Linked DNA regions of Homo sapiens. The protein of the gene in region 2 interacts with the protein of the main gene of each other region in a pairwise test. Each region holds a gene or a part of one and is shown on either strand. Other genes may lie near its edges.

The links.
Region 1: the proteins of CT55 (region 2) and FAAP20 interact in binary tests that used the Homo sapiens proteins (3 or more experiments, as listed by UniProt).
Region 3: the proteins of CT55 (region 2) and LYPLAL1 interact in binary tests that used the Homo sapiens proteins (3 or more experiments, as listed by UniProt).
Region 4: the proteins of CT55 (region 2) and KLC3 interact in binary tests that used the Homo sapiens proteins (3 or more experiments, as listed by UniProt).

The regions. Positions count from the first base shown.
Region 1 is NC_000001.11:2,188,188-2,192,801, forward strand, and holds the end of FAAP20 (Fanconi anemia core complex-associated protein 20), read right to left. Parts: exon of another isoform or gene 1,611-4,614; intron 1,595-1,610; coding exon 1,522-1,594; 3' UTR 1,361-1,521; downstream 1-1,360. UniProt on the Homo sapiens protein: Component of the Fanconi anemia (FA) complex required to recruit the FA complex to DNA interstrand cross-links (ICLs) and promote ICLs repair.
Region 2 is NC_000023.11:135,167,092-135,175,982, forward strand, and holds the start of CT55 (cancer/testis antigen 55), read right to left. Parts: upstream 4,308-8,891; 5' UTR 4,081-4,307; coding exon 3,987-4,080; intron 2,688-3,986; coding exon 2,503-2,687; intron 1-2,502. UniProt on the Homo sapiens protein: Plays a role in spermatogenesis, possibly acting in the regulation of the autophagy pathway.
Region 3 is NC_000001.11:219,167,989-219,176,906, reverse strand, and holds the start of LYPLAL1 (lysophospholipase-like protein 1), read right to left. Parts: upstream 3,030-8,918; 5' UTR 3,017-3,029; coding exon 2,926-3,016; exon of another isoform or gene 2,603-2,925; intron 1,947-2,602; exon of another isoform or gene 1,887-1,946; intron 1-1,886.
Region 4 is NC_000019.10:45,335,588-45,344,491, forward strand, and holds the start of KLC3 (kinesin light chain 3), read left to right. Parts: upstream 1-5,162; 5' UTR 5,163-5,259; intron 5,260-8,904. UniProt on the Homo sapiens protein: Kinesin is a microtubule-associated force-producing protein that may play a role in organelle transport. Plays a role during spermiogenesis in the development of the sperm tail midpiece and in the normal function of spermatozoa.

The DNA.
Region 1 (4,614 bases), on a different chromosome or scaffold from region 2:
ACCTGGGGGCTGAACAGCAGTGGACAGGAAGCTCCCTGAAGACGCTGCTTTCTGTGCTCCACTCACACTGTGAGCCCAGGCAGACGGTGGCTGACGGATCTGGGTGAACCAGATGCCCACTGCTGCTGTCCTTCCCCAGAAACTCCGGATTTCAGGAGAAGCTGCCTCAAAACCCCTGGCGAATGATGAGGCCCTGGAGCCCCCGGAGAGTCTCAGCTCCCGCAGCCCTAACAAACGACCACAGACCTGGGGCTTCAACCAGACTCTCTCGGCTCCAGAGGACGGCCCTCTTCTGGCCTGTGTCCCCCACGGTAGAAGGAGCAAGGGAACTCCCCAGGGTCTCCATTATGGGGCACTAATCCCATCGAGAGGCGCCGCCCCGACCTCCTGTCCTGGCAGAGTTCTTGCCTTGTGGTGAGGATTTCAACCTAGGGATTGGGGAGTTACAGGCCCGCAGCACACGGTGGCAGGAGCCTTTCCTTTTCATAACTAGCTGCAGCTGCAAGTTCATTTTGGGGAATTAAAACACCACCGATGGTGGAGCGCGGTGGCTCACGCCTGTAATCCCAGCACTTCGGGAGGCCGAGGCGGGCGGATCACGAGGTCAGGAGATCAAGACCATCCTGGCTAACACGGTGAAACCCCGTTTCTACTGAAAACACAAAAAATTAGCCGGGCGTGGTGGCGGGCGCCTGTAGTCCCAGCTACTCGGGAGGCTGAGGCAGGAGAATGGCGTGAACCCGGGAGGCGGAGCTTGCAGTGAGCCGAAATCGCGCCACTGCACTCCAGCCTGGGCGACAGAGCGAGACTCCGTCTCAAAAAAGAAAAAAAAAAAAAAAAACAAAAAGAACGCCACCAGAGGCTGGGGCTGCTGGCTCACGCCTGTAATCCCAGCACTTCAGGAAGCCAAGGCGGGAGGATCGCTTGGGCCTAGGAGTTCGAGACCAGCCTGGGCAACATGGCAAGACCCCTCCATCTGTACAAAAAATACTAAAAGTCGCTGGGTGTGGTGACGCGCGCCTGTAGTCCCAGCTATTCAGGAGGCTGAGGTGGGAGGATCATCAAGCCCAGGAGTCTGAGGCTGCAATGAGCCGTGATTGCACCACTGCACTCCAGCCTGGGCGACAGAGCGAGACCCTGTCTCAAAAAAAAAAAAACAAAAAAAAAACCGTGACTGCACATGAGCTAACCACGCCTGTCCACAAAGTTAGGAAAACGAGCTACCCTCAGCCCGTCCGCTGTCCACAGTGGGGGCGCCAGGGGAAAGGGGTCAGCTTCCCCGCCTGGGGCTGTGTCTGGTTCTGATTGCACTGCAGTGAATCTGCCCTAAACCAAACGTCAGAAAGAAAAGCGGCAGACGTTTCATCACAACACAGAGACAGACAGGAGCCCGCCCTGCTTTAATGCGCATGCGGGGGAGCCGAGAGGCGGGGCTGCTGGCGGGGGAGCCGAGAGGCGGGGCTGCTGGCGGGGGAGAGCGTGTCCGGGCGCCGCACTCTGCGCAGGGCTCTTGGATGGCGCTCACCACGTCACGTCTTCTGTGCTTTCGGCCAAGCACTGGGCCAGGTGGCTGTCAACATCCAGCTGGGTCAGCCTGCAAGGGAGGGGCCACACTCACTCGGCCACCTCCGCGGCATGCTGGCCGCAGAGAGCACCGTCTGGACCTCCGGGCCCTCTCTGCTCCTGCCGCTGGAGAGGATCCGGCTGGTCAGAAACAAGGGACGGGGCCACCCCAGGGGCTCATGCACCCGGCAGACCACGGTAACCGCCAGTGGTGTTTCCACACCGTGCCCGTGAGGAGGCCACGCCAGGCCCCTGCGTCCGAGCTGGGGGTGGGGAAGCTGTGTCTCAACAAGCCTCTCTATGGGATTCTGGCGCCTGCTCAGCTTGAGAACGCGCTCATCGTGGAGCCCGGCAGACAGGCGGCCTGACCCGGAGAAAAGGCAGGACGGCGGGTGGCCTGCCAGGGAGAGCCGCCGCGGCTGCGTCTACAGGAGGCAGAAGAGTAAACATGGCTGGGCAGTGGATGTGCAGCTCACGTCAGAGAATTGGTGTTTCTGGCGAGGAGGGACCAAGCCTCACCACGGAGAAGGACGCCGTCACCGGCGTGCAGGCTGCCAACCTGCCACTCTGGGAGGCCCCACGCGGCCCCTGCACCTCTCAGGAGGGCGCTGGCGCTGGGATGGTGGCCGGCCAGGCAGGGGTGGCAGGAGAAAACCCATCCGAGTCCTGCAGGTCAGCGCCCTGGGCATCCAGTGGGGCCGGGAGGGGTGTCTGAGCGCAGCCACCTTCTATCCCCGGCCTCATGTGGCCCCATCAGCCCAACTGGAGCGGCTGGAAATGACCATCACCAGGCCTGGCCAAGGTGTGGCCCTGGAAGCCAGGACAGTTGACTTCCGGCCATGACTCCCGGAGAGTGCCGGAGCTGGCGTGCTCAGCAGAGCTGCCGGGGACGATGTCCCGGGGCTGAGTGGGCGGCTTCAGCCTAGACTTGGGCCTAGATCTTGCTGGAGGCCAAGTGGTCAGTGTCCCATCAGAGTGACCATCCCTCACACGCCACTGCTGGGGGACACACCCCCACTGAGCGGCCAAGTCCACAGGACACGTGTCCCTGTGTCCACCTGTCAGCCACACCGCCCCTCGCTCCCCTACAGCCTCTGCCCTCAGACCAGTCCACGGCGCGCCGTTTTACCCTTGGGCTTTGCTGTGTCCCTTCCTTTGGCTCCTGTGCCCCGTCTGTGTGGCCACTGCAACCCTCAAGTCCCCCTCTCCAGACCATAGCTGGACCCCCACTCCCGGGGCTGGCTCCAGCAGCCATCAGCTGCCTTCTCACTCTGGCAGAGCCCACCCAGTGCCTTCTGAAGCCCCCGAGGGTCACTCAGTCTGAGACTTTCCGGCTTCTGCCCATCCTGGGAACCAGCCCCTCCCTCCAGAAGCTTTCTCTAAGGTTGCCAGAAGGTGCTAAGATCTGAACCGAGGTCATCTTGTCCCGGGGTTTCCAGGCAGCGTCCCTTGTTTGGGGGCCCTCTGAGATGCCTTCAGACCCCCGCCTGTGGCGGAAGAGCTTTGTCCTGGCCTGATCTGCCCTGTCCGTGACGCTTCTGCTCAGTAGCTGAGCACGCCCTGTGGTGTGGACAGGCCAGCCCGGCTGCAGGACAGTGGGGGCTCAGTCCAGAAGCCTCTGGTGGCTTCTGCGTGTGGGCAGGGGAGCAGGGCTGCAGGGTGGGCTGGCACCTGGCAGCGTGAGGGGCCTCAGGGCTGTTAAAATCCCAACGACCGGCCGGGCGCGGTGGCTCACGCCTGTAATCCCAGCACTTTGGGAGGCCGAGACGGGCGGATCACCTGAGATCAGTTCAAGACCAGCCTGACCAACATGGTGAAACCCTGTCTCTACTAAAAATACAAAAATTAGCCAGGTGTGGTGACGCCTGTAATCCCAGCTACTCAGGAGACTGAGGCAGGAGAATCGCTTGAACCCGGGAGGCAGATGTTGCAGTGAGCCGAGATCATGCCACTGCACTCCAGCCTGGGCGACAGAGCGAGACACCGTCTCAAAAAAAAAAAAAAATCCCAGTGACCAACCCAGGGCCTCGCCACATCAACAGAGACAAAACGCAGCTCTGGCTCTCAACATCCTCACCCCTCACCAGGTGCCCAGCTTCCCATCCACCCACGTGACCCGCAGGTGTCTGAAAATGCACAAAATGTCCAAATAGGACCACAAGAAGATCTTAAAGACACAAAGAACATTCTACATAGTTTGTCAAATCCAGCATTTGACGGTCCTCTGGGTGACCCGGAGAACACCAAGGCTGTGAGAAATGGGAGGCCTCCTGGCAGCTCCACTCCCCAGACCCGCCTCTGCCAGGGCTCCAGGCTCAGCAGGCGCCTGTGCGGGACAGGGCGACGGTTCAAGACCAAGTCCGGCTGTTAGACCAGACCCTCCAATCCAGGCGGCCTCCCTGCTGGGGTCCTGTGCGGTCAGGAGTCCCAGGGCATCCCAGGGTGGCTGTGCAAACCCTTGTTCCCAAAGATATGGGGCTTGTCCCCCAGCTAGCCTGCCCATGCGGTGGCCACAGCCTCGGGTGAGTTCCGGTTCCAAAGTACCGGCTCTCCCTTACGATCAAGTGTTCGAATGTGCTTGAAGCATTCCAGACACACCAAGGCCTGGACCTGACTTCATTGACGCCTACTTAGGAAAAATTGAGGCAGTCTGCCAAGCTTTCAGCAACTGCTTAAAAAGCTCAAAATGGCAAGTTTTTCCTCGTGAACGTCCTTGTCTTCAGAAGTCTTTTTTTAGACTATCTGGAAAAGCAGGCGATGCAAAGACAAAAGCCCCTCCCCGGGGGGCGGGGGGCAGCACCCTGACAGCAACAAGGATCTCAGAGCTTCAGCCAAGAGCATGGATTTCTCCCCAGGGCTCCCAACAGTACCCTCTGTCCGTGATTCAGGGTCTTACTCTGTCACCCAGGCTGGAGTGCAGTGGTGCAATCATACTTCACTACAGCCTCCAATTCCTGGCTCAAGGGAATCCTCCCACTTCAGCCTCCAGAGTAGCTAGGACCACAGGCACGCGCCACCACGCCCAGGCATGTAAAGATGGGATCTTGCCAT
Region 2 (8,891 bases):
AAATACTCCTAAAATTTGTATGGAACCATGAAAGATTCCAGACAGCTGAAGCAGTCTGGAATACAAGGAACAAAGCTGGAGGCATCACACTATGATGTCAAAACATATGACAAAGCTATAGTAAGCATAACAGCACAGTACCAGTATAAAAACGGACACATCAACCAATGGAGCAGAATACAGAGCCCGGAATTAAATCTGTGCATTTACAGTCAACTAATTTTTGACAAAAGGCCCGAGAACACACAATGTTGAGAAAGTACAGTCTCTTCAATAAATGATGTTGAAAATAACTGGATATTCATCTGAGAAAAATGAATTTCCACCCTTATCTCTCAGCGTGTATATAAATCAACTCAAAATGATTTAAAGCTTTAAAATGAAGACCCAAAGCTGTGAAACTACTAGAAGGAGACATAGGGGGAAAGCTCCATGACATTGTTCTGGGCAACGATATTTTAAAAACAGGACCTCAAAAGCAAAGGCAAGAAAAGGAAAAATACACAAATGGGATTACATTGAACTAAAAAGCTTCTGCACCACAGAGGAAACAATCAAAGAGTGGAGAGACAATCTATGCGATAGGAGAAAACATTGACAATCTATGTATCTAGTAAGGGGTCAGTTTCCAAAATGTAACTCCAACAACACAATAGCAAGAAAACAAATAATCCTATTAAAAATGAGCAAAAGACCTGAATAGACATTTCTCAAAAGGAGACATACAAATGGCTAACAGGCATGTGAAAAAACACTCACCTTCTCTAATCATCAGGGTAATGCATATCGGAACCACAGAGATACCGAGTCACGCATGTTAGAATGGCTAACATTAAAAAGACAAGATATAACAAGTGTTGGCAAGGATGTGGAGAAATTGGAAGCTTTATGCACGGTTGGTGGGATGTAAATTGTTACAGCCACCATGGAAAACAGTATGGACATTCCCCAATATTTTAACAATGGAACTATCACACTATCCATGAATCCCACTACTGAGCATGTATCCAAAGAGAGTGTCATCAGTGTGTCAAAGAGATGTCAGCACTTCCATGTTTGTTGCAGCCCTATTCACAATAGCTATGAAATGAAAGCAATCTAAGTGTCCATCTACGGATGAGTGTATAAAGGAAATGTGGTATAAATACACAAGGGAATGCTATTCAGCCATAAAACAGAACAGAATATTGCCGTTTGAAATAACCTGGATGAACCTGGAGAATGATATGTAAGTGAGATAAGCCAGTCACACAAAGACAAATACTGCACGGTCACATTCACATGCAGAAGATAAAAAAGTTGATCTCATAGCAGTGTAGAGTAGAATGGTGGTTACCAGACGCTTGTGTTGTTAGGGTGGACAGAGGAATGAGAAGATGTTGGTGAAAGAACATATAATTACAGTTGTATAGAAGGAACCTTTTTTAACTGTCCAGAATATATACAAACAGAAAGTGGATAAGTGATTTCCTGGAGCTGGATGTTGTTGGGGGAGGGGACAGTTGGGGGAGCACGAAGAGCTTCCTTTTGAGTAATGAAAATGTTCTAAAGTTGATTGTGGTGATGATTGCATAACTCTGTGAACAAATTAAAAACCACTAGATTGTTCCCTCTAAGTGGGCCAATTGTATAGTCACGTGACTTATATCTCAATAATGCTGTAAAAGAATGAAAGACATAAAGCAAAGGAAAAAGATGGTATCAGACGAAATACTACAAGGGCTTCATACACAAACTTTCCTATTACAAATCTAATTTTCCTACCATAGAGATAGCCATAAATATCCCTATTGTATCAGTAGGTCTAAGAAATAAAACTTACTGTAATCTCATGAAGACCCTTAATAATTCCAAATGAATGATGAGACTGCTTTTCCTTTCTCATATGTGCAAAGATTTCAGATCGATAGTATTGTTGTCCTTGCCTATATGGGCAGATGGGCAGTCTCACCTCCTATTGCTGAGAGAATCAATTAGTACAATAGAGCTAAAGAATAATTTCATAATAGCCACTGAATGGGCAAATATCTGGGCTCAGGTGATGTTGCCAGGACTCCGTAAATCTGCAAATGTTATTGAATTGTACCCTTAAGAGAGTTTTGTGGTTGGTGAATTATAATTCCATGAAGCTCTTTTTAAAATATTTACAATGCACATGGCTTGACATAGAAATTCCACTGTTTTGAATGCACACTACAGAAAATGTTTTTTTACCTGATAAGGGAAGTTGTAAGATTATAAAGAGTTCAATAATTATTATTGTTACTCATATTGTTTAAAGACTAGAATAATAGATAAGTAAGCTTTTATGTTTTACAGCACAAATTACTACAAATATTACAACAGAAGAAGCTACAGCTTCAGAGGAGGGGGGCTTCAAATTGCAGTCTACATCCACTCTACGGATCACAGCAGAGATGTCGGATTAACTCAAGAAAAGAAAGATGGAGAAAGAAAGCCCACTGGGATAAGACACAATTCCCAAACTCATGCACATCTCACCTTGATTGCTCTCAATCCATAATGTGGTTTATCTTCTTCCACAACCACATTAACTTTTTGTCCAACTTTTAGAGGCACGTTGCCAGTCACAACATCACTACTGAAGTAGATCGACTCATCAATCATGCCATAATCACCACAGAAACTTGTGACAACTCCCTGCACAGTTGTCAACTGGGTGTCACCTACAAGATAAAGAAACAAGGTCACATTATTAGCCTCAAATGCAAACACCTACTACAAGTAAGTCTTACACTCACCATCTGCATAACCCTGGGCAGAGAAGTTTTATAACGTCTCTGACCTTGTTTTCATCTGTCAATCCACAACAATCACAATTTCGCCTAATAGGGTTGTTGTAGGTTTTTAAAATATTTTTAAAAATTTATTAAAATTTAAAAATTTTAATTTTTAATTATTTTTTAATTTTTTGAGCAGAGTCTGGCTCTGTCGCCGGGGCTGGAGTGCAGTGGCGCAATCTGGGCTAGCGGCAACCTCTGCCTCCTGGGTTCAGGTGGTTCTCATGTCTCAGCCTCCCCAGTAGCTGGGACTACAGGTGTGTACCGTCACACCCAGCTAATTTTTGAATTGTTAATAGAGACGGGGTTTTGCCATGTTGCCCAGGCTGGTCTCCAGCTCCTGGCCTCAAGTGATCCACCTACCTGGAACTCCCAAAGAGCTGGGATTACAGGTGTGAGCCACCGCGCCCAGCTTACGAATATTAACTGACACATGCACATCAACTGTCGAGAGCTCTGAGTGCCTTGCACAAGAGTGTGTAAATGTTACCTGTTAGCATTTCTACATATGAGTCTTTAAGCTTCTGCTCCTATTATATTCCTTCATCATTATCACCAACATGATGAGTAGCACCTTCTATAGATACTTAACCATCTCAGCAGACAAAGTACTAAAAGATATCTGGAGATTGAAGGCTAGCCCAAAACGGCATCTGAATGGTTTTCTTTATTTCTCCTTCTTCTTCTTCTTCTTTTTTTTTTATTCTGCACAAGCCTAGCTGATCAGCAATACTTAGGGATCAAACCTCAGCAGTCGCCGGCAGGGGTTCTCTGCCTTCCTTTGGGATCAGATAAGTATGAGGCATCAACTTGGCTTCAAATTACATTCCCGTTTGGGATACAAGCCTAAATTAACTCGCAAATTAGGGAGTTTCTCGCCTACTGGAAATATAAATAGGCATGTGCTGTGCGACCACGTGGGGGAAAAGCACAGGCGGTACAGACCCCAAGGTCTTCTCTGTCAACACCTTCCCGCTTTAGATGGACAGGAGAGTTTGGGGGTTGGTTCTCAGGGAATTGTTGAGGACTCGGGTTGCCTCGGGTTGCCTCCCCATGCACGCACAAGATGGAGCCACCGTCACGTGCAGTACCCACCCGAGTTACAACAGCCTCATTCCGGGGGTGAGGAGAACCCCTATTGGGAGGCTTCTGGGGTGGGGGACAAGGGGACACACAGAGGAATACCTTGTGGGAGGCCCTGCTGCTGTGGGCCCTGTCGCTCTGCAGGGTCGGCCGTCCTCCCGTAGAAGGCCAAAGCAAGTCTCAGAAGCCTGAGCATCGTCCCAGTTGTCACCACCGGCCTGGGCACCGCTTGTGGCAGATGAAGCACGAGGCCTCCTCAGTAAGGGAAGCCCTCAGGTCACGGCGTCTCCTCAGGGACTCACTTCCTGCTTCTCCTCAGACACTGTGGCATGGGACCCACCCGTTAGTGAGCCCCCCTCAGGAGAGTCAGGGACACCGCAGCCTCCAAAGGAGCTCCCAGCTTCTCCGCTGACTTCTCCCTCTGAGCATGCGCTCGTCAGGGCCCGCCTCTACCACTGTCCAACCAATGGGCGTGCAGTGGGTGGGCGGGCAGGTTCTTGTGGCTACTAAAAGGCGATGGGTGGGAACATCGTGGCTTCTCCCATCAAGGCTGAGGGAGCCATTAGGATGGCCTGGGGAAAATGGCTTGGGAGCTTGGGTTCTGCATTTACTAAGGAGATACAGGGCTCTTCTCTTGGGTTCCCTGGGAGGATGGGTGCCTGAAACACCGGCTGTGCAACCAAAAATCCTGCTCCTGCCCTTGTATTCGTGGTGCTTAGCATAAGGAGTCACCACTCAGTGGGCGGTCAATAGTTACTCCTCACCAGGGATCAATTTTGTGGAGAGAGGGCATCATGTGGGTAGGCAATGTTTTAGTGATGGCAAGTACGTGTCTTGTGTACTAGGACTGCCATTTTTAGTCCAGTGATAATTTATAATAGAATCCTTTTATGATCATTGCTACCATGTACTCATCGCTTACCTGGTTATGCTTACATTACTCTGATATACACATTACCCTTATTCATTCATTCAGCAAAACTTGTAGGGCACTAACTGTGAACCAGACACTGTTCTGTGTTCCTAAAATTTGTTAATGAATGAAAGAGTCAAGAATCTTCACCCTGTGAGGGTAGATTTTTCACAGGATGACGAAAGGGTGACACTAAACATCACATAATAAAATATATGGTATGTTAGAAGGCAATAAATGCCATGGAAAAATATAGCAGGACAAGGGAGATCCACAGTGCTGGGCATGGGGTATTGGATTGCACTTTACAATAGCATGGTCAGAGTAGCCCTCATTGGAAAGCAATAGTTGAGAAAGATGTTGGAGTTAGCCAGGCAGCTATTTTTGGAGGAGCCGTTCAGACGGAGGGCACAGTTTGTGCAAAGACCATACAGCAAGACTGTGCGTGATGTATTCAAAGAAAAGCAGTGATTAGAGCAGAGGCAGTGAATAGCTAGAAGAGTGGGAAGTATGGTAAGAGAGATAATAGAGGTTCAGGCTGCATGTGGGATAGTGGGGCACTGGAAGTCCTTTGGCTTTTATTGTCCATGACACGTAAAGTCCCTGAAGGATTTGGAGCCTCCAGGGATCACTCCAGGTGCTTGGTTGTGAACAGGCTGGAAGAGGTCAGAGCAGGAAGCAAGGAGAACAGTTTGGATGATTCTGATGCAATCCATGGGCACTGTGGATGAAACCTGTTTGTCTTTCCTCTCCTACTGTGAGAACAGGTAAGAGCATTGCTGAAGATTATCATCTGGTTAACAGGATCGGTTGAGGGCTATCTATGTCTCAAAATGTAACACAACTGTGTTAATTTCCTAGGGAGGCCACAACACATTACTACGACTGCGTGGCTTTAAACAACAGAAATTTATTCTTCTGCAGTTCTGCAGGCTATGAGTCTGAAATCAAGGTTTCCGTGAGGTTGGTTCTTTCTGGCAAGCTCTGAGGGAGAGTTTATTCCAAGATTCCGTAGGTTGCCAGTAGTCATCGGTTGGCTTCCTTCGGTTGTAGATGCATCACTCCAATCTCTTCCTCCTTCATATCATGGTGCTCTTCTCCATCTGTCTGTGTGTCCAATACACCTCTTCTTATAAGGACACCACTCACTGGATTAAGGGTATATGACTAATCCCAATCCTGTAGGACCTCATCTTAACTTGATTTTTTTTTTTTTTTTTTTGCAAAGACCCTATTCAAAATAAAGTCACATTCACAGGTACTGGAGCTCAGAACCTGAGCATATCTCTTTCAGGGCAAAATTCAACCCACAGCAACTGCTCTTGTAAATTTTGATTACTCCAATATTCTATGATTATCAATGAAAAATTAGGACACACAGGTAAGCACACATTTCCTCTTATTTCTCTGAGAAAACACAGGCCATGAAACAGGAGCCCCTCTGTGAAACTCCTGGCACCCATCCTGGCTTTCTCTTCCTTCTCTTTTGTAACAATGGAAGGACATCGCAGCCCCTGGCCAGGGCTGAAACTCCACTGAGCACATGGAACCATTCTCTTGACACATTTTCTCTGAGGATGTTGCTTCTATTGCTGTTGCCTCTCTTCATCCTGCATCAACAATCTTTTTTTTTTTTAATCTTTGCCTGCAAAGGAATAACATACAAACATACACAAGAATCACCCATCTTAAAAACTTCACAAATAACTCCCATCTTAAAAATGTACATAGATAAATAAGCTTCCTTGGCCTCATTTCCCCTTCAGTCCCATTCTTCTGCATCCTGTCCCCCACAGCAAATGCTATTTCAAGAATCACCTCTGCTCACTTCCTGAGCTCCCATTCTCTCCTTATTCCTCTGGCATTAGGCTTTTACCCACATCATGCCCCTAATTTGCTCTTAAGATGACAGGAAACCTCCAGGTCTCCAAATCCAGTGGTCAATATGCTAAGCTCTCATCACTCAACCTCTCAGTGTTTGACGCAGGTGAGGACTCCCCATTTCTTGAAATAAGTTCTTTGGTCTTCTGTGTGACCACTCTCTCCTAGAAAGACTCCTTCTCAGCCTCTTTTGTGAGAAGTTCCTCCTATCAGGATTGCACAAGAGTGCTCCAGGACTCAGACCCTGAATGGCCTCTCTATCCACACACCAGCCCCATGGCATCTAAGTGCACGTACTCCCAATTCCATATGTATACTGAGTTACACACGTGATTATCCCATAGACGACTCAAGGGTAAGGTGTCCAAAATTTCATATGTCCTGAGCTTCCTTCAACCCCTTCACCTCCATAAATCTTCTCCATCTCACACGATGTCAGCTCAGTTCACACAGTGGGTTAACATCATATCCCTGCCATAACCCTTAGTTTTCTCCATTTTCTTTACACACTCCATGCCATCCATCAGCAAAAACTATCAATCCTTTGAAAACATACCTGTAGTCTCACCACCTCTAAAGAATGATTGAAAAAAAACATCACTGGGTCAAATGTTTTAGTTTCCATCATGGCACAGAAGAAAGCAGAAAGAACCGAAGAGACAGCAGCCACTCAGACATATGAAAACATGCCCAAAACCCTTTCATGTGTCCCTGCTGGCACAAATAGAGCTAATAACGGATGCTGCAGCAAGAGATTGGTGCTAAGAAATCGCCTTAGAAAGAGGTAAGAAATAGCCTTCTCTGGCAAACTTCACTAAGTCAGACTCAGCCTCCTCTGCAGGGTTCAAACTCTGTTGGCAGAGAAGCTACAGGTAGATTCCAGCACCAGGAAGACAGGTCCCTGCTGAGAGAATACTGCAGAACAAAGAAGGGGCTCTTCTATACCAACCTGCTGGAAACACTGTGAATGATCTTTGTGGTAGGAGGTGCCTCCAGAGGCCCGGAACACATCAGATAAGAAATGGCTGCTGGACCTGAATGCCAGGGGATGAATTCCACTGGGCCACAGAGCAGCTGTGCGCCCCCTCTTTCCTGTTTGTGTCCCTGACTTGGCTGTTGAATGGACACGACGCTACTGGGACTTCTTTCATAGGATTCTTTGTGAGCATTAAATGACGTGTGTGTCCCAAGGCCCTTAGCCCAGTGCTTGGCATATACAAGGGCTGGACACAAAGTAGATTAACAGCAATTCTGAACAAGGATGCCATGCACCCCATTAAACCTTCTCACATTTTAACTGTCTCCCATGAACAAAATGCACACCTTCACAAGTATCCATGAAGCAATCATTCAGTGCCAGATTCCAGCAAAGATATAACCATGTGATTCGCCTTCTTGGCTTCTAGTGACCTGCATGTTTCACTCTCAAATCAGGGAAACTGACTCCGACTGAAAATATTGAAAACCATCTGTCCGTGGTCACTGCCCTCAAAAACCTCTTATCACAAACACCTGCTTACTTTTCTTTCTGTCACTAACTGCTAGACGGAAATTCTTACTTATTCATATGCTTATCAGAGTATTTATTGTCGGTCTCTTCCCACTTGTATGTCAGCTTCATGACTGCAGAGCTTTTGTTCGTGGTTGCTTTTTCCATCTGCTGGGCCTTCAGCATCTAGAACAGTGCTGGGCACACGGTAGGTTCTCAATAAATACCACAGCAATTAATTGAATCAGAAAAGGGTAACATCCTGAACCATTCCAGCAACCTGAGAAAGGATCTGGTTCTAAGGCAATTCACACCAAATCTGAATACTTTGCTTTCCTTTGTGCATCTATCTAAACAGTACTGGGCCTCATTCAGAATAATGTTACAGCTGGCTGTAAACGTCAGAACTGTGGTTCGGAAGACGTTAGATCCCAGCTCAACTCAGCTGTTTCCTGGCTTTGCAACCTGTCCTCAGGGTCTGACACAGCAGCAACTTGTAAGTAAAATCAGCCAATAAATTGAGTTTTCTTGCAGATCAGTGATCCAGCCTCCCTCGTGCACATGAGTTGCACCATGGAGTAAAATGTTACTCCTTTCATTACAAAAGCTACACTGGAAATAAGTGTTGGACTAGTGTTTAGACAAATATTTCTATAAGAATAGAGTGACAAGGCTTTAAATGACATGTATCAATAAGTATATTATTCATTATGATTTAATGGAT
Region 3 (8,918 bases), on a different chromosome or scaffold from region 2:
TTGCTGTATGATCAGAGCACAGAACAGTGCCTTACACATGGAGGCTGTGATATATTTCTTGAATGAATGGATTCATGAATGAATGTCTATCAGGCAGTTAGATGAACTTGTCTAGAGCTCAAAAATAGAATCTATGAATCTCCACAGAAATTCAAAGGTTCTATTTTTACCTATACACCAGTGACACAAATGGGTATCTCTAGGAGACTTCTGTGATTAGCCTAGGGAGAAAAATGTAGAGTGAAAAGACCTTGGACCAAATTTAGAGAAACCCCATCATTAATGGCCAGGTAGAGGAGGATGAGTCTGCAAAAGAAACCAGAAGGAGCAAATCAAGACAGAAAAAGAACCAGGAGAGTTTTTTGAGAAGAAAGCTGAATGCAGATGACAGTTCACGTAAGAGGACGACTGAAAATGTCCATTACATTGAGCGACATAGAGCCTGAGCTTACTGGTGACTTTACCAAGAAGCTACTCAGTCAACTTGCTGAGCCTTACCACACAAGAAGAAAGCCATAAACAAGACACATGGTTTGGGCTTTGTGGACCTACTAGCTTAGTGTGGAATACAGACATTACATTACATAATTACAAGTATGATGACTACCACTGAAAGAAGAACCAGTGTCCTATGGGAGCAAATAAGAGTGAATTAATCTGATCTGAGAGACTGAACAAAACTCATTAACCTATCATTTATTTTTATCATCTTAAAAGAAGGTCCGTCTTTAGTACTTTATTAATAGAAAAGGCTCAAATTAAGTTGGCTACATATAATTTACACTCCCATATGTTCTTCTATGGCTGCTATCTCCTAGAAGAAAATCTCAAGCTTTTAAGGTTTTTTATTTGAAAACACAAAATCTGTCTTTAACAACATTTTTTCAGCCTCGAAGAGTAAGAATGCAGCTGCAAAACAACATCTATCCATTCCCAATGTCCACTTTTTAAAAAGCTAGTACTTTATTCCATAGTAAAAGTGTTAAAACTGGTTAACAGTATGGCAAAACTGAGTGTGATAAAACAGAATTGGTTTGCCCATATTCTAGTTAAGCAGAAACCAAACATCTCCTATAACATAACCACATACATTAAAGTTGAATGTAAAATCACTAGCTGCTAAAGACCTACTGGATGATAAAGACCTACTCCCAACGATAAAGATGATAAAGACCTACTCCCAATAAGGTTTTATTTACTTCAGTGGAGATTTAAATATATAGGAATCACATTATACTCGCATACTTGGCAGAATTCTTTGAATAAATTCTTGGTTCAAAGTACAAAGGAAAAAATACATACATACATGACTCTGAATTTTAGAGACATACCCTTACAGGTTATAAAAATGTAATCTGAAATTCAAAAAAAGGATAATTATTTTAAGCAAAGAGGTCCAGGGGAAAAAAGAACATAGTCTAGGAGTTCTTCCTAAAGATAATGAGAATTGATTATGAGAAAGGGTACAGTGTTGGGGAATTTCTGGGTACTTATAAATGAACACTCTTGGAGCCCTAAATAGTACTACCAGTCTCCTAGTTATTAAGTACCGCTGTCATCTTACACACGTCACCTTCTAAATATATGCCGTCTTTCCCTTTAAACACTATTGGACCTCTTCTTCCCTATCTCCAAAACAATATATCCTAGTTCAAACTTTTTCACCTTACCCCACCAAAGCCCTGAGTTTGAGGTCGGAGAGCTTTGGGTTCTAATCCCAAATCCGCCACTACTCACAGTAACAGCTAAGAGACCTTGGCCAAGCTGCTGAACCTGTCTGGCCTCATTTTCAAAATAAAGAGAATACCTCCCACAATTGCCCTTTTCCAGGTCTCTGCCCAGTACCTTTCCAATTCCCTTCCAATCACCGTCCCATTTAAGCCTACCCGTCTCGGCTCAAAGACCACTTTCTTCGAAAAGTCTGACAAGCTTTTCATCTTCCAAATGCCTTAATAATGCCTAACCACATTTTTTTCTCTTACAATTCACTTGGCAGGAAACCATGCACCGTCTTGTGATCTTCCATGCACTGCTGACTCAAACTAATTGGATTGTTTTTGTTTTTAACTTTAGGTAGGCCCCCTGAGGACACCGGCTGCATCTCATTTCTTTAAAAAACATTTCCTGAGAGCTTACCCTGGGCCAAGCACTGGGGGTGCAAAGGTTGACACAAGGGCCCTTACTCTCATAATCCAGTGGGAAGTTCACAATCCAGTGGGGAAGACAGACAAAAGTGATTACAGATGAGTGTTAAGTAACGATACAGCATTAAGCACACGTTACTAAGGGCAGGTAGTGGAAGATGCCTGTCCCTGGGGGTCCTGCCCCTGTAGTCTATCTTGGAAGTTTAATGACACAGGCGGGAAAGGGAAAGGAAGGAAAGAGAAGCAGCAAAAAGGAAAGTGAGAGAAAGCACTCCAGCCATGGCACAGTGGCTTACAGAAAAGAGATAATCTGTAAACAGTATCTAAGTTAACTGTGAATCTCAATTGTCTACATTAGTATGGGAGCCTGGAAAAAGCAATGGGCAATTACGACTGAAAAATCACTAGTAGCTGATAATGAAAAACACTAAATAATTTCCCTCTAGCAGAAGACTTACCTTACTAACTTGCTCTGTTTAAACTTGGGGCGAGGAATGGGGAGGTGTGTTGTGGGGATGGAGGGCTGGCTGAGCGGCGGGACACAAGGCCCCAAAGCGAGGGTGGTGGACCAGTGACCGCCCGATAGAAAGAGGAAGACTAACGGGGGAGGCTGGGGGCAGGTGGCGCTGCCCGTGCATCTACAGCCGGGGCTGGCGACGGGGGAGCCACCCACTGGGCCCTATTTGGGCCCGGCGACACCTCCACTTGGGCAATACTGGGGTAACCGAGGGGAGGATGTTTCCCGAGCTGTAGAAAACCAGGACGTAAAATTGAAATCCACCTGAGCCATGCAGGAAGATCAGAGAGGCGCTATGCCTCCCTGCCGGCGACACGATACAGCGCTGCAGAACCGACCCCGACGCAGCCGCCATCGCTGATGCCACTGCCAGTCATGCGGTTCCGCCCCTGCGTTGCCGCGCGGGGCCGCGCACGCAAATACGCAGGCACGCGCGGGAGCACGCCCGGGAGCGCGCATGCGCAGCGCTGCTGGCCCGCTCTCTGAGGAGCTTTCAATACTTTGGGGTCAAGTTTGAGGCAGTTGTAACTGTACTGAGTTTAGTTTTGCTAATAATGGTATTCTACGTGTGTCAGCCTCGTGTGGACTTCTGTAATGACTAATGGATATGTTTATATCCTGAGCATTTGCTGTAGGAATTTTAAATGCAATCCCAAAACTCAAGATTACCTTATTTGGAGAAATATTCGTGTTACTATGTTTAAAATTTAATAGAACCATATTTTACCTTTCACTTTGGGACTCGCACAGGATGTTTGCAGCTCTTGATATACAGGGTAAGCGAAGCATATAATAATAAGTTCTCTTCGTGTCTCTTATTTTTAATAAATAGTTTACAAAGCAAATCTAATTTAATGAGATTCTGCTTTATATACCCATTAGAATGGCTCTTATCAAAAAAACAGAAAATAAGTATTAGTAAAGATGTGTAGAAATTAGAAACCTTGTGCATAGCTGATCAGAATGTAAAATGATGTTGCGGCAATAGAAATAATTTGGTGGCTCCTCAACAAGTTAAACATTGACTTAGCATAGGTACTAGCAGTTCCACTTCTAGGTATATACCCAAAAGAGATGAAAGCAGGGACTCAAACAAATACTTGTACTTCAGTGTTCTGTAGCAGCATTATTCACAAGTACCAAAAAGTGGAAACAACTCAAATGTTCATCTACAGATGGAGAGATAAACCAAATGTGCTATGTACATATTGGAATGGAATATTATTCAGCCTGTAAAAAGAATGTGATTCGGATACATGCTACAACATGGATGAACCTTGAAAACATTATGCCGAGTGAAGCCAGACACAAAAGGACAAATAATTGTATGATTCCACTTACATGAGATATCTAGAATTGGCAAATGCATAGGGACAGAAAGTGAAATTAGAGGTTACCAGGGACTAAGGGAAGAGGGAGTTGGGAGGTTGTTGTTTAATGAGTACAAGAGTTTCTGCTTAGATAGTGAAACATTTTTAAAAATGGACAGTGATGATGGTTGTACAACAGTGTTAATAACTGCCAGTGAACTATACACCTAGTAAATTTTATGTGTATTTTACCATAATTTTAAAAATACTAAGAAATGGAATTATTTCCTGTATAAAGTCCAAAACATAGGTATCTTTTAATACTGAAGGCAGTGGCCCCAGCAGGTTGCTCTTGCCTCATGTAAAATTCAACAAAATAACCCAGTAAAAGCTTAAGTACCATTAAACACTGGCCTTCCATTCATTGTAGTCTGCATTACATTTTAGCAATTACAACTTACCTTTTATTTGTTCCAGGTAATCACCCTACTTACAGGTAAGTAAACTGTTTACTATCAACATTAGTTGCCAAAATCAGCTCTAAGCTATCATGGTGTTATATTAATAACAATACCATCAACAAGAATGGTCCTACATGCCATTAGTTAACCAAATCAAAAAGAAATTCTGAGTCATTTCTCCAAAGCCCATAGATCTGCAGCAGAGAGTTGTATAAGTGAAGTCCCTGAGGAGGACAAACTAGGGTAGGCTGAGCTCTGATAGCCAATTCTTAAAAGAAAAACCTCTGTCTTTTGACCTGCCTTCCCCGTATGAGTTCTAGATAACCTTCCCTAGCCAGGTGAGAAGAGGGCAGTGCTACTAGGAAAGACCACTTGGAGATATACAGGGAAGGCTTTAAGTTCTACTCTTAGAACTCCATTTACTACCTGAAAATCTTACTGTACACCACCCCACGCTTTTGAGACAGCAAAAAATCAGAATATAATTATTTAAGAGTAATGATTATTAATAATAATAAGCAACTAATATTCATGGGATTCAGTAGGTGCCAAAAACTGTCATAAATTAATTCCAATAAAACTCAGTACTATTACTATCTGCTTTTGTCAATGAGGCTCAAAGAGGTAAGGAACCTGGCTCAAAGTCATAGTGCCAGTCAATTGTAGAACCTGGATTCACATGCTGGGCTTGACTCCAGAGCATAGGTTCTTAACTATTACCCACATTTACACATGAGTGCACAGAAATGAAGCAAGGGCATGTCGCAACTCTTATTTCAAAAACAAAAGTCTGGAATTTGTATTGTGGCCCTTTAGAGTCTCTATTTATTAGGTGTTCCTGTGCTTCTTTAGTTTTTCCCAAGTCTACTGCTATTAGTTCCTGATTTGTTCTTCCAACTATTCTACCAGTTTAAACAGGTAGATAAGCAGGTGGTAAATACCAGAAGCAACCTTCTGTATTCTGAATTTCACTGAGAACTCCAGCCTTCCCAGATTCATTATTAGAATGAGCCAGATTCTTCCACACTTAACCAAAGTGCTATTTTATTTCCAGTGATTTAAATGCTTAGCTATTGTTGCTATTCCTTTCATCTGTATTTGTTTATAGGACAAGCAAAGGTTTTAGATTACCTATATTTAGAGATCCCATCTGGTAGGCAAACTGTTGAACAAAAATGTTTTGTTCCTTTCATGTTACTGTACTACTTTGAAATGTAATTAAGTTTCAAGATGACTATTTGCTTTTGTGGTGGATCTTTTGCCCTATTGAAGGTGGGGGAATATTATCACTGGAAGATTCCTATTCATACATTCTTTTACTCTTTATATAGCTCCTAATTATTTTTTGTTGCTACTCATTTGCTTTCTGCCAATCTATATGCACCTCCTTTTGGTAACTTCAGTTCTAAACTTAAAAAAGCAAGTAAACAAAATAAAAGAAAAAGAAAAAGTTCTCCTGTTTTGCAGGGTTTCAATATCAATTAGGATCTAACGATATAAATGGCAAAGTCGGAGTTTAGTTTACTGTTCTTCAGTGTGTTGAGAAATGCTTTAGGCCACACTTAGTTTTCAAAACAGAAAAGCAATTGAAAGTTCAGCCATTAAGATTAGTATATTTTGCCTGGGTGCAGTGGCTTACTGTAATCCCAGCACTTTGGGAGGCCAAGGCAGGCGGTTCACTTCAGGCCAGGAGTTTAAGACCAGCCTGGCCAACATGGCGAAACCCCATCTGTACTAAAAATACAAAAAAACTTAGCCGAGCATCATGGCGCATGCCTGTAATCCCAGCTACTCCGGTGGCTGAGACACAATAATTGATTGAACCCCGAGGCAGAGGTTGCAGTGAGCCAAGATCTCACCACTGAACTCCAGCCTGGGTGACAGAGCAAGACTCTGTCTCAAAAAAGAAACAAAAACAATGAACAAGATTAGTATACTTGGTATTTTCAAATGATAACAGTTAAATGAAGTTGCATTTGTCACGCAGACAGTACACAGTTTCCCGTTTGTTGTTTGGCTCATTCTTAAGCATCAAACCATATCCTCTCTATTGGTTAGTTTTCATCTGTTGCATCATTCAGAGAGAGAGAAACACACACACACACACACACACACACACACACACACATATATATATAAACAATATATACACATTGCACAAAATGCTTCAGCTTCAGCTTTAGGTAATTTAACATTTTGTCATAGATAAATAAAATGATTTCTTTTATGCATTCCCCCTGTCCATTCATGAAAGAAAAACTAGAAACAAACTTAAAGGTCCTGAATTCTTACAAAACAGCAAAACTATACTTTTTATAAATGAGATTATAAACTTTAACATAATCATTGCCTCAGTTCTGGGGACCTTAATCTTTTTCAGTCCAGTCTTTCCAGATACAGATATGGGTCATTCCTCTACTTTACCTTACTACTAGATGTGCATGGTCTCATTCTCTTTTTAGAGCAGATGGGTCACGTGGGGCATTGTGAGATGGACTGAGATGGCATTGGCAGTAGGGGTAGGGGAATACATGAGCTCCTCAAACACAGACCAAACGCAGCCTTGGAGAATGGATAGTGATTACTCTGCTGGATTATTAACAGTCAACATGATACACACCAAAGCAGTATGTAGGCCCTAGAGGAGGACAGTGAACTTTCCTCCCTTGGGTGCAGGCTACAGGGTCAGTGTTTATGCTTGGACACCAGAACAATGTTCTTTGCATTGCCATTTGTCTCCTCTTTTCTGGGAAATGGGTCTTCTTCCATTTGGACACCTCTTATGGCCAGTTCTCAAATTCCTAAGTTACCCTCTGGAAACACTTCTTATTCAACTTCCACTCAGTGCTTATATGAGTCTGAGGAATCCCTCCTGCAATCTTCATATTTGTCTCTGTACTCTAGAACCTATTACTTTTTTCTTCTATAACAAATTTTCAGGCTTTTGAAATCCAGGGCAAGAATCAACAGCAACCCCTAATCAGGTTTTGGGCCCTTGAGGGCAGGGAAGTTCAAATCCTACCATGAGATGAGGGGAAGTCATTGCATTGCATACGTCTATTACAAAGAAAAGAAATAAAAGCCAAAAGAGTAATTTCCTTATGAATGCAGTCAGAATATCTACTGTATTTTGCTACATTCATTTAAGAGAAGATTAGATAGGTAGATATAAAAAATGTTGAAGTAATGAAATGATAGGAGTTCCTGTTCCAGCCTCGGGGATGACAAGCTATGTAAATTAGACAGGCCATTTAGTCTCATTGGACACGTTTCTCCAATTGTGAAATAAGGGAGCAGGACTTGATGGAGAAGCCCCAGGTTCTGTCATTCTGAGATCCTGAAAGAATTTAAATATGTGACATGTGCCACTCATTTATGAATATACCTCTGATGTTTAACTCTACTTATAAAATAATGGTTCAAAACTCTTAATTGCACTACATAAACTTTTAGTTAGTAGTATGAGAAAGATCAGCACATGTGATTCTCCTTCCTCCTTGTATGGCTGAGTTTAGCAGCCTTAATCTCTTCCTACTCTTTCTGTGATTACTTTTAAAAGCCAGGAAAAAAAATTTAAAAAGACCTTTAAAAAAAGATAATTAGAAAATATAAAGTCAATTTTTGCAATTTGAAAAATGGAAGTGCACTTTATTCTGAAGTAGACTATTTTCAGGTTGTGTCTGTGTATGTGCATATTTCTCTGTGTATATATATTTATGAATATTTTCTATATATGTATAATTGGCATCAAGGTATGACAATGGATTTTCTTTTATTATAACTATATATGAAGAAAATCGAGACGCTTTGAAAAATCTACCTTAGTTTATATTTGAAAGGCAAATTAATACAATTATTTTGTCTTATCATATTTCCAAAGAATTTACTTTCTTATAGATTGATGGCAAAGTGTCAGTCTTCAAGAGCAGATATTCTTTGTGTAGGTTAAAAATGGATGCAGGTGTATATACCGAAAAGTATTGAAAGCAGGGGCTCAAAGATGTACTTGTACACTCATGCTCATAGCTGTGCTATTCACAACAACCAAGAGATGGACGCAACCCAAATGTCCATCAACAGATAAATGGATAAATAAAATATTATATATACATGTAATGGAATATTATTCAGCCTTAAAAAGGAAAAACATCCTGTCACATGCTACAACATGGATGAATCTTGAGGACATTATGTTAAGTTGAATAAAGCAGTCACAAAAAGATGAATACTGTATGCTTTCCCTTATATGAAATATCTGAAGTAGTCAAATTCATAGAAAAAAAAGTATAATGGTGGTTACCAGGAGCCGGAGAGAGGAGGAAAAGGGGATTAGTAGTTTAATGGATATAAATTTTCAGATTTGCAAGATGACAAAGTTCAGGAGATTTGTTTCATAACAATGTGAATATACTTAACACTACTGAACTGTACACTTAAAAATGGTTAAGATCATTTTACATTATGTGCTTTTTATCACAATAGAAAA
Region 4 (8,904 bases), on a different chromosome or scaffold from region 2:
GCCTGGGCGACAGAGCAAGACTCCATCTCAAAAAAATAAACAGGCTGGGCCCGGTGGCTCACGCCCATAATCCCAGCAGTTTGGGGGGCTGAGGTGGGCAGATCACTTGAGGTCAGGAGTTTGAGACCAGCCTGGCCAACATGGTGAAACCCCATGTCTACTAAAAATACAAAAAAATTAGCCAGGTGTGGTTCCTGTAATCCTAGCTACTCAGGTGGCTGAGGCAGGAGAATTGCTTTAGCCCAGGGCACGGAGGTTACAGTGAGCCAAGATCACGCCACTGCACTCCAGCCTGGGCGACAGAGTAAGACTCTATCTCAAAAAAAATAAATAAATAAATTTTTTTTTGTAGAGATAGGTTCATCCTATGTTCCCCAAGTTGGTCTCAAACTCCTAGGCTCCAGCAATCCTCCTGAAGCCCTGGGATTACAGGTATGAGTCACCACATCCGGCCAGTTTCCTCATTTTTAGGTGGGGCTGGTAATAGTGCCTACCTTGGGGGGTCAGCTACAAAGATTCTGGGGCTCTGCTACTCCTTGGCTGTGTGACCTAAGACAAGTTACTCAGCCTCTCTGTGCCTCATCTTTTTCACCTGTGGAATGGAGCGAATCATCGCAGCTGGTGTGAAGATTAACAATTTGTATATAGGAGTTGGCACAGGGCCAGTCTGGGGTAAGAACTCAAACATCAGCCATTGTTGGCGTTGTGCAAAAGTACTTGGAACACCGCTGGCCTAAAGGAAGGTTTTCCTGGCCAGGTGTGGTGGCTCACGCCTGTAATCCCAGCACTTTGGGAGGCCGAGGCAGGCAGATCACGAGGTCAGGAGATCAAGACCATTCTGGCTAACACGGTGAAACCCCGTCTCTACTAAAAATACAAAAATTAGCTGGGCATGGCGGTACGTGCCTATAGTCCCAGCTACTCCGGAGGCTGAGGCAGGAGAATTGTATGAACCTGGGAGGCGGAAGTTGTAGTGAGCCGAGATTGTGCCACTGCACTCCAGCCGGGGAGAAAGAGCATGACTCCGTCTCAAAAAAACAAAAACAACAACAGCAGCAACAAAAGCAAGAAAGGTTTTCCTTAGTTAACACTTTCTTCTTCTTTCAATCTTTATCTCATTTAAGTCTCACCTCAATGCTGTGTGATGAGTGTGATCATCCCCATTTTACTAGACGAGGAGACAGAGGCTCAGCCAGAGATCATTGTTCCCCCGGTTTACATGGAACAGAAATGGCAGGGCCAGGATTTAAACCTAGATCTGCCTGGCTCCCCGCCCGGCTCCATCCCCTGCCCTCCCCCAACACACATAGTATTTACCGGGTGCTACCCTGTTCTAAGCCTTTTCTGGGGGATTATACAGTAATCCTCACCACAGCCTTAAAGTAGGGTACCCTGTGAGTCTCGTTTGACAGACTAGAAATCTGAGGTCCAGAGAGGTTACTTCTTGGCTCAGAGGGTCACACAGCTAGCAAATGACCCAGCTGAGATTTGTCCCTGCTGGCCTGGCTCCAGTCCCTGCACTGCCTGTGGTAAGCGTGTAGCAGATCCAGATCCAATGTCCAGCGTCGTGAGGCCAAAAAAATGGGGGGCAGGGGGAAGGCTCTGCTGCCCCTCGATCCTGTGCTGTTGAAATAGCTGGAGCTAGCACTTTGGAAGGCCGAGGCGGGTAGATCACCTGAGGTCAGGAGTTCGAGACCAGCCTGGCCAACATGGCGAAACCCTGTCTATACTAAAAATATAAAAATTACCTGGGCGTGATGGTGCACACCTGTAATCCCAGCTACTCTGGAGGCTGAGGCAGGAGAATCATTTGAACCCGGGAGATGGAGGTTTCAGTGAGCCGAGATCATGCCATTGCACTCCAGCCTGGGCAACAGAGACACTGTCTTTTTTTTTTTTTTTTTAGGGGATGGAGTTTTGCTCTTGTTGCCCAGGCTGGAGTGCAATGACGCCATCTTGGCTCACTGCAACCTCCGCCTCCCTGGTTCAAGTGATTCTCCTGTCTTAGCCTCCTGACAAGCTGGAATTACAGGCCCATGCCACCAAGCCCGGCTAATTTTTGTAATTTTAGTAGAGACACGGTTTCATCATATTGGTCAGGCTGGTCTCGCCCTCCTGATCTCAGGTGATCCGCCCTCCTGATCTCAGGTGATCCGCCCTCCTAGGCCTCCCAAAGTGCTGGGATTATAGGCATGAGCCACCACTCCCAGTGAGATGCTGTCTTAATTAAAAAAAGGAAGAAAGAAAGAAATAGCTGGAGCTTGGCACAGTGGCTCATGCCTGTAATCCCAGGACTTTGGGAGGCCAAGGCAGGAGGATCGCTTGAGGTCAGGAGTTCAAAACCAGCCTGGGCAATATAGGGAGACCCCCATCTTTACAAAAAACAACAAAAAGTAGCTGGGTATGGTGGTGCATTTGTAGTCCCAGCTACCTGGGACTTGGGAGGCTGAGGAGGGAGCATTGCTTAAACCCGGGAAATCAAGGCTGCAGTGAGTTACGACTGCCACTGCACTCCAGCCTGGGTGACAGAGTGACACCTGTCTTTTAAAAAAGCTAGAGTAGGCCGGGCATGGTGGCTGACGCCTATAATCCCAGCACTCTGGGAGGCCGAAGTGGGTGGATCACCTGAGGTCAAGAGTTCAAGACCAGCCTGGCCAACATGGGAAACTCCATTTCTACAAAAATATAAAAATTAGCAAGGCATGATGGTGGGTGCCTGTAATCCCAGCTGCTTGGGAGGCTGGGGCGGGAGAATCGCTTGAACCTGGGAAGCGGAGGTTACACAATGAGCCAAGATCGTGCCACTGCACTCCAGCCTGGGCAACAGAGCAAGACTGTCTTAAAAAAAAAAAAATGCTGGAGTAGTTAGGATATGAGTTTGAATTTTTATTTCCATGATTCAATCAGCACCTATTCTCCCAAATGCCTTCTCTGCGTTGGGCCTGTGCTAGGTGGCACTGGGGACACAGTGGAGACTGACATGGCCCCTGGCCGCCTCCTCCCTTCTTGGGGCTCATAGTCTAATATGGGACTGACCTGTCTCCCCACACTGATGACCCAGAGTTGGCAGGGCTGGATGTGGGAGCCCAAGAGCCTGGAAACCTGGGAAATAAGAAAGGGCTTCCTGGAGGAGGAAGCATCAGCACTGGGGCTCAGACAACAGGGAAGTAGAGGGCACGTTGGCTGCAATTCGGAGGGAGCGCGGAGCTGTGCCGAGTCTGGAGTTTGGTCCACGGACCAGCAGCGCCCTCTGCTGGAAGCATTTCATAGTGTAGTGACCGGGGTACCGCGCGCATTGAGCCATGTATGTATGTATGCATTTATTTATTTTTGAGATGGAGTTTCGCTCTTGTTGCCCAGGCAGGAGTGTAATGGTGTGATCTCGGCTCACTGCAACCTCTGCCTCTGGGGTTCAAGCGATTCGCCTGCCTCAGCCTCCCAAGTAGCTGGGATTACAGGCGTGCGCTACCACACCCGGCTAATTTTGTATTTTTAGTAGAGATAGGGTTTCACCATGTTGGCCAGGCTGGTCTCGAACTCCTGACCTCAAGTGATCCAGCCCCCTCGGCCTCCCAAAGTGCTGGGATTACAGGTGTGAGCCACTGCGCCGTCCTCAAGTTATATTAGAATCGTGTCCTCCCAGCTTTGGCCAGCTTACTATTCTAGGACTTGATTCCTTCATTCAGTCACAATTTATTGAGCACCGACTTTGCATCAAGCTCTTGCTGAAGATAACAGTGCTGACAATATACAGCCCTGCCCTCAGAGCTTATATAGTAGAGGAGAAAAAGTGAACCCATAATATACAGTCAGTAGCGAGTATTTACTAAGTACTTTCTATTTGCGAGGCCCTGATAAAAGTACTGTCCTGGCCAGGCGCGGTGGCTCACGCCTGTAATTCCAGCACTTTGGGAGGTCGAGGTGGGCAGATCACCTAAGGTCAGGAGTTCGAGATCAGCCTGGCTAACATGGGGAAACCCCGTCTCTACTAAAAATGGAAAAATTAGCTGGGCATGGTGGCGGGCGCCTGTAATCCCAGCTACTCGGGAGGCTGAGACAGGAGAATGACTTGAACCCAGGAGTTGCAGTGAGCCAAGATAAGATAGCGCCATTGTACTCCAGCCTGGGTAACACAGCGAGACTGTGTCTCAAAAAAAAAAAAAAAAAAAAAAAAGTACTGTCCCTGTATTAGTTAACATTCAATTCTCAAAGCCTTAGACTATTTATATTTTATTGACTAGGGAAACTGAGGCACAGAGAGGTTAAGTTACTTGCCCAAGGCCTGCACAGCAAGTAAGTGCCGGAATCAAATTTGAACCCTGAGCCCAATTCTTAGATATCACATTCCCTTGCCAATAACATAATATATAACATAACATAATGATGTGATATATGTTATATAAAATAACTTTAGGGGCCGGGGGCGGTGGCTCACTCCTGTAATCCCAGAACTTTGGGAGGCCGAGGCGGGAGGATCACTTGAGGTCAGGAGTTTGAGACCAGCCTGGCCGACATGGCGAAACCCCGTCTCTACTAGAAATATAAAAAGTAGCCGGGCGTGGTGGCAGACACTTGTAGTCGCAGCTACTCGGGAGACTGAGATGGGAGAATCGCTTGAACTTGGGAGGTGGAGGTTGCAGTGAGCCGAGATCGCGCTACTGCACTCCAGCCTGGGTGACGGAGCGAGACTCCCTCTCAATAAATAAATAAGGTAATTTTAGGCCCTGAAAAGTTTTGTGAACAAAATCAAGAGGAGTATGTAATGTTTTGGTGGAAGGGTGCCATTTAGAAGGGGGCAATCAGGGAAGGCCTGCCGGAGGAGGTGGCCTTTGAGAAGAGACCTAAAGACGATGAGATCTGTGGGAAGAGAGATCGAAGCAGGCCACACAACCAAGGAAAAGGCTCTGGGGCAGGCACTGCAAGAAAGCCACCTGTCTGGGATCTAAAGTTTCCAAAGTTTTAGCTTGGCCAAGGCCCCTGCGCTACAATCACCCTGATTCGAGGTGTCCTGGAGGTTACCAGTTCCGCGTGCGAAGTTCTGCCATTCCCGCGGGGCTGGAGCCCCGAGGCTGAACTTCCCACGGGCGGTGGGCGTGGCCGGCTCACCTGCGGGGGCGTGGCTCCCGGCTGCCCCGCCCCTCGGAGGAGCCGCCCGAGGTCCCAGACGCCCGGCGCAGCGGGAGCGGCGGGGCGTGCCTGGCCTGCGGGACGCGACTGATCGCAGTGGGGCGAAGCGGGGCCGGAGCCGCCCGCGGTCAGGTGGGTGCCGGGAGTGGGGCGCGGGACTCTCGGAGAGCCGCGATGATGGGGGGCGGGGGCAACCCTGGGCCCGCTCGCCCTGAGACGGGGAAGGGCCTTGGGGCTCCCGGATGCCCCCTGCCCCGTCCTGGGGCTCTCCGGGATCTGGAGGCCTGGCTGGGGTCCCATGCCCCCCACCCCAGCGCAGGTAAACAGCGAGGACGGGGCGGGGCCTGGGAGGGAGAGGGAGGGGGCCCTTGTGACTGCGGGTGAGCCTGGTGCGCGGGGCTGGGCAGGCCAGGGTAAGTTGGTGCGGCTTGCGGGGCTGGGCCACGATGGGAGTCTCCTGCCTGCCTGTGTTTGTGTGTGTGTGTGTGTGTGTGTGTGTGGCTTTGCGTGTGTGTAAGAGAGTGTGTCAGGCTGTGGGTATGAGGGTGAAAGCGACTGTCCGTGTAACCCTGTGATGGGACTGTGTGTATGATGTGACACTTTTAGCAATGTGAAAACGTGGGCGACCTCTGACTGGAATGGTGTGTGTGTAGAATTGGATTGCTGGTAGCACTTTACGACCAAGAGCTAGTGCGACTGTAGTCGACTTTCTGCTTGGCCTGATGTGCATGTGTGTGGCTGTGTGTGTGGCTGTCTTCATGGCAGAGAGTGGAACTGGTTGTAGGATTAGGTGTGATTGACCAAGAGGCTGTGCGGCTGTGGTTGTCTTTCTGCCTGTTGGTGTGTGTGTGTGTGTGTGTGTGTGCGCGCGCGCGTGTGGTGGACAGTGTGGCACTGGATCAGTGATAGGTGACTATGATTGACTTTTGATTGTGTGTCACTGTGATGGTGCATGGGGCTGGGCGGAACTGTGTCCAGAAGTGGAGCTGTTTCATGGGACGGTGCGCGTGGAACCTTGGGGTTGGATGAGTGAGGTGTGGAGGTGTGTGAAGCCGTGTGTGCGTGTGTGTGTGTGTGTGTGTGTGTGTAGAGAGGAACTAGAGGGTGTGTGATCTGCATTGATACCGTGGCTGGCAGTGGTGTGCAACGGAGAGTTTGTGGGAGATGGGAGTGGAGACGTGGACATTTAAGTGGGATGCTCCTCCAAGCGGGTGACAGGATGGAAAAGGGGGTCCGCGTCAGGGATCAGTGTGTGGGACTGTGCCTATGATTATCAGCTGTGCGGTTGTGCACCCGGGGCTCTGTGTGAGTGTGGGAGCTGCTGTGTGTCTGGGACACAGCCCGAGTGCTGGATGGCTGTGGTTGAGCCGTGTTTGTTGCTGTGGTTGTCAATCTGGCTGTGGAGTGGTGTGTGTAAGGCTGTGTCTGAGGTTATAGAGGGAGGTTTTACATCGGCAAAATTGTGTGAAGAATGGTTGTGGTTGTCAGGATGACTCTTGAACCTGTGTGGTTGTGAGTTCAACCATTTATGATGTTTGTGTGTGAGGTGTGAGAATAGGTATGGTGTGATATACACAAGCACACAGATTGGCCGGGTGCAGTGGCTCATACCTGTAATCTCAACACTTTGGGAGGCTGAGGCGGCGGGGATTGCTTGAACCCAGGAATCCTAGACTAGCCTGGGCAATATGGTGATACCCCGTCTCTACAAAAACAAAAATTAGCTGGGCATAGTTTAGTTTTTTAAAAATTAAAAAAAGGTTGGCTGGGCGCGGTAGCTCACGCCTGTAATCCCAGCACTTTGGGAGGCCAAGGGGGGAGCGGGTGGATCATTTGAGGTCAGGAGTTTGAGACCAGCCCGGCCAACATGGTGAAACCCCGTCTGTACTAAAAATACAAAAATTAGCCAGGTGTGGTGGCGGGCACCTGTAATTCCAGCTACTTGGGAGGGTGAGGGAGGAGAATCGCTTGAACCTGGGGAGGTGGAGATCGCAGTGAGCCAACATCATGCCATTGCACTCCAGTCTGGGCAACAGAGCGAGACTCAGTCTCAAAAAAATAAAATTAAATTTTTTAAAGGTTGATATATACATCACATATATACACATACATATATCTAGAGAGAGGGAGAGATCAATGACGATCAAGTCTGTGGTGCACAAAACGTACAGGACCCTTACTGTATGTGATCGTGCATGTACAACATGTGCAAAAACCGCTGGGCTGCTTATGGTGGATGCAGTGGCTTGAGTGAAGTGTGCGAGAACGTGGCATCCCTCCACGCGTATTCACAGCTCTCTGTTCCGACAGTGGAGCTGAATCTGAGTACTTGTGTGTGCATGGCGTGTAGGTGTGGGAGTCCCTGCTGGCCAGGCCTGGAGTGGGAGGGAGAGGAAGTAGGGAAACTGGCGAGGGATCCATAGTGAATCTTGGGAGTGTGTGCATCTGGAGGTGCGTTGGGCACATTGTGGGGAGTTGGCTGCTTGGGAGCCATGTGAGTTCGGGGGACAGCGAGTGTCACGGTCAAGTGCAAGGAGATGGTCTGAATGTGAGTGATTTGGGGAGTGGGAGAGACAGAGTTAGTTTCTGCGTGGGTTGGCTTTTCTTTCTTTTTTTTAAATAATATTATCACTTTTTGACACGGAGTTTTGCTCTTGTCACCCAGGCTGGAGTGTGGTGGCGTGATCTTGGCTCACTGCAACCTCCGCCTCTCAGGTTCAAGCAATTCTCATGCCTCAGCCTCATGAGTAGCTGGGGACTACAGGCGCATACCACCATGCCTGGCTAATTTTGTATTTTTAGTAGAGCCGGGGTTTCACCATGTTGGCCAGGCCAGTCTCAAACTCCTGACCTCAACTGATCCACCCACCTCGGCCTCCCAAAGTGCTGGGATTACAGGCGTGAGCCACCGCGCCCAGGCTTGGTTTTTATTTCTAAGAGAATATACCTGTGTGTTGGGAGTGTATACAGATTGTTTTTGAAAGAATAGTATATGTGTGTGCCTGAGTCAGTGTGTTGTCTTAGGTTGTATTTCTAAAAGGAAAATGTAAATGTTTTTACTGAGTTGTATATTTAATAGGAGAAAGTGAGTGCGTGTTCTAAGAGGAGAATGTATATTATGCTGTCCTTTCTTTCTTTCTTTTTTGACTGGGTCTTACTCTTTCACCCAGGCTGAGTGCAGTGGCACTATCATGGCTCACTGCAGCTTCAACCTCCTGGGTTCAAGCAATCCTTCTACCTCAGCCTCCAGGTACACCATCACCACACCCAGCTAATTTTTTTATTTTTATTTTTGTAGGGATGGGGTCTCACTATGTTTCCCAGGCTGGTCTTGAACTCCTGGGCTCAAGTGATCCTCCTGCCTCAGCCAAAATCCCAAAGTGCTCGGAGTACAGGTGTGAGCCACCGCACCCGGCCTACATTGTGTTTCTAATGAGGGAGTGTGTGTGTGTGTGTGTGTGTGTAACTGTATTTCTGGGAGGGTGTGTGTGTGTACCGTCTTTTTTTTTTTTTTTTTTAAATGAAGTCTCACTCTGTTGCCCAGGCTGGATTGCAGTGGTGCGACCTTGGCTCACTGCAACCTCCGCCTCCCGGGTTCAAGCAATTCTCCTGCCTCAGCCTCCCAAGTAGCTGGGACTACAGGCATGCGCCACCATGCTCTGCTATTTTTTTTTTTTTTTTTCCAGTAGAGACAGGGTTTCACCCTGTTGGCCAGGCTGGTCTTGAACTCTTGGCCTCAAGTGATTTACCCACCTTGGCCTCCCAAAGTGCTGGCAT